Linked DNA regions of Homo sapiens. The protein of the gene in region 1 purifies or fractionates together with the protein of each later gene. This does not show direct contact. Each region holds a gene or a part of one and is shown on either strand. Other genes may lie near its edges. The genes, in order: HOXA3 and KDM6A.

Region 1 (3,823 bases):
TGTTCACCAGCATACACACACGGAAAGACGTACACTTAGTCATCCTTGCACAGAGAGCCCCTGTTTCAAAGCGCCTTTGATTTTTTTTCTCACTCTTTACAAGAAGTGCAATTAAAAAAAAAATTTAAAATTAAAAAAAGTAATCGCTTCCCCTCGGGAGCCATAATGTAAGAACAAATTCACATTGAAAACTCGACTAGAAAATTTGTTCATATACCCTGTTTCTGATCAAAGAGTGGAGAAGGTAAAGGGTGCAGGGCCAGTGGCCTATCGAGGAGCAGGAAGAGATAAATATCGCTATGATACAGCCATTCCAGCAACCAAGATTGCTACGTCACATAAACTATAAAAACGCCTTACCAACGAGGGGGGAAACCGGGAAACGGAGTGCGGGGCGGAGAAGAGAGAAAAGGAAGGAAGGAAAGGGCAGGAAGAACCTAAAAAAAAAAAAAAAAAAAAGCAACCAAAGAAAAAAGGTGGGTGGGGGGAGACTCTCCTGGCGCGTAGCCCCAAGCCCACTATCACAGGTGGGTGAGCTTGGGTGCTTCCTGAATTCTTCCCTGAGAAGGATGGTGGCCGGTAAGGTCCGTGTAGGTGGGGTGCGGCTCCCCAGGCCCCGGCCCGTGGTGGTGGCCGCTGCCCAGCGGCCCGGCACCCCCATAGTCCATGGCGCCCGAGGCAGCGTGGGGGAGGTGAGTTAGACCAAAGAGGGCTGGCCCGGAGTTGCTCATGGGCTCCACATAGCTGCCCCCCACGAAGACGGGGCTTCCCTGTATGTGTGGGGTCCCATAGCTGCCGTTGCCCTGCAGGCCATGAGCGTGCGGGTCATAGTCGGGGGTGCCCCCTGCGCCCGCCCCTGCCGCCGTGTAGCGCTTCTGTGGGGGTGGCGGGGGTGCGCAGCTGGGCAGGGACGCAGGGTAGGAGGCGGGGGGCAGCCCGTAGGTACCCTGGGGGGGCTTGGAGAAGGGCGGGGGCGACTGGGGCTCATACGGGACGCTGTTGACCAGCGAATGCATAGAGTTCAGATAGCCACCGGCTCCGGGGGGCACGGGGCTGCGACTTGGAGACTGGCCCCCCGATGACGTTAGCATGCCCTTGCCCTTCTGATCCTTTTTGTACTTCATGCGGCGATTCTGGAACCAGATCTTGATCTGGCGCTCAGTGAGGTTCAGCAGATTGGCCATCTCCACCCGGCGCGGCCGGCACAGGTAGCGGTTGAAGTGGAACTCTTTCTCCAGCTCCACCAGCTGCGCGCTCGTGTAGGCCGTGCGCGCGCGCTTGGACGAAGCCTGCCCCGGCGGGCTCTTGTCGCCAGCGCAGCTTTCGCCTGCGAGGACAGAGAGAGGAAGAGCGGCGTCAGGGGCTGCCGCGGCCCCGCCCAGCCCCTGACCCAGCCCGGCCCCTCCTTCCACCAGGCCCCAAAGGTTCCTGCATCCGTCAGGTCCCAGAGAGAAGTAGGAACTAGGTGCTATCCTCTCTCCTGGTGGGTAAAACAGTGATACTCCCTCATTTAGCCAAGGAGCAAATCACAGCCTTCTCGGGGGAAAGGACAGAGAAGTAGAACCCCCGGTTTGCCTTCCTGGTCTGGATTTTCTGTTTAGAGCTATTAACTTTCTGACTCATTTACTGGTCCCTTTGGCCTATCGGACAACAGCCTCCCTGTGGGCCGGTCTCAGCATCTCCATTCTCTTCACAGTAACTGAAATGTGGGAAACCTAATGTACACACTCATTTCCCTCCCACACTGTCTGACAATAATTAGGCAGTAGCTTCAACTGGCCACTTTTTTCTCTCTACCCAGAGGAGATGGGCAGACTGGAAACCTCAAACTGGAAGGCCTTCTCTGCCCAAAGAAGAGATCCCATTGAAGGTATTTCTGGTGGGGAGGCCTAGGCCCTTCATGCTAGGTCCTATTCTTTAGGGTTCCCTATGTCATCAAGCAGCCAGCCCCAGCTTTTGTCCACTAATCTTGTACCCTTCTGTCTTCCCTGGCCCCCCAGATCCTAGCTCTGGAAGTCCCAGATGCTCAGGCTCAGAGCAGGGCACTGGCAACTGGAGAAGGCAGGGGCAAAGGTAACCAAAATGCTAGGAAGCCTAAAGCCTGGGGCCTTTCCTCTACTGGAGCCCGCTTTCAGGAGGCCCATGTGGTTCCCATTAGGATGATAAGTCTGCATCCCCCTCCCCCAGGAGATCTTTGGCTGCTTTCATTGTACTAAGTCTGAGTAGGGTCTTCCCAGAGGTAAGGCAGCCACTCCATCTGCTGGAGCAAAAATTGGCTCTGATTATAGGCAAAGCATTGATTCTGTCTTGGAGGGTGATTAGGCCTGTTTTTATTCTGCCACATTTCAGTAAGGGGAGGATGTCACTGTTTCATTAGAAGAGCTGTGCTAAAAAGATAGACAGTGGAGCTCAGGTTGTTTCTGCACAGAGGTCCTAACTCCAAGAGTGGAGCAAGAAGAGATTCCAACTGCACTAGACCCTACTTGCCCTTGGAGAAGTCCAGAGGGACTCCCAGCAGGTCTCTGGTGTTTTCCAGCCTACAGAGGCCTATCACCTCCCTAAGTTGCAAAGACTATGAAAACCTTTTTGGTGGGCAGTGGTGTGGGAGCAGTGAATTCCAGACATGCTCCATCGCTCCTAGGCTGTGCTGGATGTCGTGGGCAGTAGCTTGGGGACCAGGAGCCAGGCCAGAGGACCCTCTTCCAGAAGGCACTCCTTTACCTGAGCTGGAGCTGCTGGTTTTCTGCTTTGTGTTTTGTCGAGACTCTTTCATCCAGGGGAAGATTTGTTTGGCCACTGTGGGTGAGTTGAGCAGGGGGCTCTTGGCCGCGTTGGCAGGGGTAGGGTTGTTGCTGGCATTCTGAGGAGGGGAGGCAGAAGAGGGAGGCGGGGGCGCGGCAGGGGTAGGTGCAGGGGGCTGAGGTGCGGGCTGAGGCGGCTGTGGGGCAGGGGGCGCGGCCTGGGGCGGCGGCGGGTGCAGGGGCGGCTCTCCCAGGCTTGGAGGCTGGCTAGGTGGGGCGCTCAGGGTGCGCAGGCACGCCTCACTCAGTTCGTGTGCCTTGGGGTGGCCCCCGGCGCTGGAGGGAGACTGGAGGGAGCAGGCGGGTCGGTGGTACTCGCCGTCGGCGCCCAAAGCGGCGGACGCCGGGTACGGCTGCTGATTGGCATTATAAGCGAACCCGTTGGCTGCCTGGTAGGGGTAGCCACCGTAGATCGCCGAGCTGTCGTAGTAGGTCGCTTTTTGCATCGCGTTGTTTCACGATCTTGATCGCACACTCTGACAGGGGTTTGACACCCGTGAGGGCGCACATTGGCACGCCCCCGCGGTCACGTGACACTCCGCCGCCAATGGCCGCCCCGCGCAGACCTGGTGGGGCGAGAAGCGCAGCGCGGTGAGGGCTCCGCGCAAATCCATCTTACTCTCAATAGCTAAGTGACATGAAAGCCATAAAAGAAAAAGTGGTCAGCAATATTTAGCAGCACGACTTGGCCCCGGGCGCAGGGAGCCGTGCTATAAAAAACCGCTGGAATTTACTGGCAGCTACAAATATTTGCTTAACTTGCGTCTGGAGTTGGGGGATTTTCCGGGGAGAAGGAGAATGAGTGAGGGCTGCAAGCTGATTCTCAGGAGCCGGGATCCAAAAGGAGAAAGGCTTGATAGGCTAGAAAGGAAAAAGGCTGGGATCTTTCTTTTCCAGGGAAGAAGAAACTTGGGGTGTCGCTTAGTTTCTGCTCCTTGGCCTCCTCCAGAGGGCCCAAGACTCCTCCACTCTGGGAATGTTGGGAAGGGAACGAGGAGGCAAAGGGGAGCTTGGGTCGCCAA
Region 2 (3,369 bases), on another chromosome or scaffold:
TAGGAATAAATACTTGGAAATGGAGGGGGGAATGATATGAATATACCCTCATGCAATATATAATGAGCCAAAGGAAAATTTAAAATATTTCATTACCTCCTACTTATCAGGTGGCAGAGCAAACACTGCTGCTTCATAACCCAGCTAACTATGTACTCACATGTTGATTTGACTTACTAATGTAAATTGGTCATAGACTTGCATCAGGTCCTCCATTTTGTACTGTTCTAGCACCACAAAGTTTTCCAAGTTTCCGCTTGTTTTTCGTGCACAATCTTGGCAATGTACTATGTAGGTCTTTCGTGAATTACTCTCATTAGTGACAAAAAGCAGATCAAAAACCTCCACCTGTTTTATACAAGAGAAAAACGTATTCAATAGAGATAGTGGTATTTACTGTACTGCTTTAGTATAATCATGGAATTCTACTTGAATGAAATTGTGGACAGTGATCTCTGGTTAAGAGTAGGTGGTAAGAAAAACATGGCTGTGTTTGAGAATCTTTAACAGACCAGGTTTATTTTGCACCAAATCCAAAGACATGGGTAGTAATGCATATTTAGGGGAATAATCAAAGGGAATGACATACTCATGACAACCACTGGCAAAGCCCAGTTCAAAAGTTTGATAAAGGTCAACCTATTTTTAAATCTAAAACATTAGTATACAATCAGACATAAGTGATCATTTTTATGTATTCATGAGTACAGCATGATTTTAGAAATAATACCTCTATCTTATACAGAAAGATTGATGAGTTGCTAGGGTTCAGGTAGGATAAGGAACAACACACCTAACTGGAATCTATCTGATCTCCTAATGACTCACTTTGGTCAGGCCATATGACATTTAAAAAAAAAATCAATGGATTCTATCATTTCAAATAAAGGTTGATGCTAGAATTACAGAATTTCAAGGTTTGAAATGGACCATCAACATCCTGTCTTTGGCTTATCCTTAAATTTCTTCAATGACAGAAAACTCTTATGATCCCATGTCTTCTTTTAACAGTTAACTACAATCCTAGAGTTCACCATGTTATCCATTACTGTCAACAAGCAGCAATACAAACCTAGTGACCTGAGCTAGAAAATTGGTGAGCATTCTTCAACTTGTCCTTCCACTTCTGCCATTTAATGAGGTGTCTCGCTGATTTTACCCTCTAAATATTTTTGAATTCTTTCCCTTCTTTAATATTCCCATTGCCAGGTTCTAGTCTAGGCCTTAAAATAACTTTTTTTTTTTTACAGGTACTTTATTTATTTATTTATTTATTTATTTATTTATTATTATTATTATTTTTTTAAATTATACTTTAAGTTTTAGGGTACATGTGCACATTGTGCAGGTTAGTTACATATGTATACATGTGCCATGGTGGTGCGCTGCACCCACTAACTCATCATCTAGCATTAGGTATATCTCCCAGTGCTATCCCTCCCCCCTCCCCCCATCCCACAACAGTCCCCAGAGTGTGATGTTCCCCTTCCTGTGTCCATGTGATCTCACTGTTCAATTCCCACCTATGAGTGAGAATGTGCGGTGTTTGGTTTTTTGTTCTTGCGATAGTTTACTGAGAATGATGGTTTCCAATTTCATCCATGTCCCTACAAAGGACATGAACTCATCATTTTTTATGGCTGCATAGTATTCCATGGTGTATATGTGCCACATTTTCTTAATCCAGTCTATCATTGTTGGACATTTGGGTTGGTTCCAAGTCTTTGCTATTGTGAATAATGCTGCAATAAACATACGTGTGCATGTGTCTTTATAGCAGCATGATTTATAGTCATTTGGGTATATACCCAGTAATGGGATGGCTGGGTCAAATGGTATTTCTAGTTCTAGATCCCTGAGGAATCGCCACACTGACTTCCACAATGGTTGAACTAGTTTACAGTCCCATAACTCTTAAGACCACTGCAATAGCTTATATATCGCTGTCCTTTCCAACCACTTTTCTCCCTGAAACACATATCTTACTTACCCTTAGTTGCCTGCTCAAAACCTTTTAATGGCTTCAATAACCTTGGAATATCAAATTCCTTAAAACCATTCAAGATGTGCTATAAATTAAATGCCACCTAGACTTATGAGCGGAATTTGCACAGTCTGTGTTCCAGCCAAATCGGAACACATTCAACCTTTTCTAAAACCATTTCATTTCCCTGTTCTCTTCTTGTGCCTATAGCCCATGACAGTCTACCTCCGATTCTCATCACTTTTTTAGTCTACTTGATATCATACTCTTTTTTCCAAGGATGGACTCAAATGCTAATACGTTTGTGAGTTCTTATGCCAATACTAGAAGAAAAAATTAGGTCATTTTCCCCCTCAGTGTTATCATTAACAGGAAGTCCAACTTCACATTCATCATAGTCTCATGTACATTACAATTAGTTGTTTATAATCTGTCTGCTCCAAGTAGAATTTAAGCTCCTTCATAGGAGGCACCACATCTTTGTTCCTGCACCTCTTGCAAGCCTTGGCCACACAAGATTGACAAATGTATTGTTAATTGCACCAGAGAGGACTGATAATCGATCTGCCTAGAGTTACACCAAACATCCAGTTTATTGGCATCTGTGTACATCTAGATTGTTCTTAGTTTAAAATCTCAGACTAAATTTGCTGATTATTGTCTGTTGAAGATCTACCACAAAAATGACTCTGCAGTAGATACTTTTAAGGTTAATTCACAGTGAAATATCATTATTATCACACTGAATTTTAATATAATGGCTAAGCAACAAAATTGAATCCAATGTTAATTACTATAAACTGGATTACATAAAAGTATAAAAAAGTTTTTTAAAAATAAAGAGAAACCAACAGTGGAGAGGGAAGAGGCTTTATAAAACAACTGTGGATAAAAACAATTACTTACTTCACAAATGCTACAGTAATGAGCTGGTTCTTCTTTTGTCCGCCCATGCCATATAATCTCTTTTCCTGCAGCAATGAGAGCTTCCCTCAATGTCTGACATTGCTTCAGAGTTCTTAGAAGACAATACCTATTGTGGGGGAGAAATTATTTGTGACCAGCAACTGAATATTGAATATTTTTAGCATAAAAGATATACCAACTAGAAATAATGCCAAGAGACTTGATTCTAATGTCTATGACTTCATAATTTTTCTTTCATCAATTTATCAAATATTCTCAGATTTTAAAATGACAATGCTCAGCAGGCCTGATGAAGACAATATTAAAACATTTAAAGTTGAGAAAAGTAATATCTGGATATCAAAATATAATGGTCTTAGTACATAAAAACTGACTCCCTGCTTAAATGTGAGTTGCTAATTTTGGCTCTTAATTTGGGCAAGTCAGTTAACCTCTCTGGGAGTCAATTTCCTCATCCG

The links.
Region 2: the proteins of HOXA3 (region 1) and KDM6A purify together in Homo sapiens (affinity purification with western blotting, with the first as the bait; one study listed by BioGRID). This does not show direct contact.

What each region holds. Positions count from the first base shown.
Region 1 is NC_000007.14:27,107,394-27,111,216, forward strand, and holds part of HOXA3 (homeobox protein Hox-A3), read right to left. Parts: intron 3,368-3,823; 5' UTR 3,248-3,367; coding exon 2,722-3,247; intron 1,328-2,721; coding exon 522-1,327; 3' UTR 1-521. UniProt on the Homo sapiens protein: Sequence-specific transcription factor which is part of a developmental regulatory system that provides cells with specific positional identities on the anterior-posterior axis.
Region 2 is NC_000023.11:45,107,058-45,110,426, reverse strand, and holds part of KDM6A (lysine-specific demethylase 6A), read right to left. Parts: intron 3,018-3,369; coding exon 2,891-3,017; intron 349-2,890; coding exon 178-348; intron 1-177. UniProt on the Homo sapiens protein: Histone demethylase that specifically demethylates 'Lys-27' of histone H3, thereby playing a central role in histone code. Demethylates trimethylated and dimethylated but not monomethylated H3 'Lys-27'.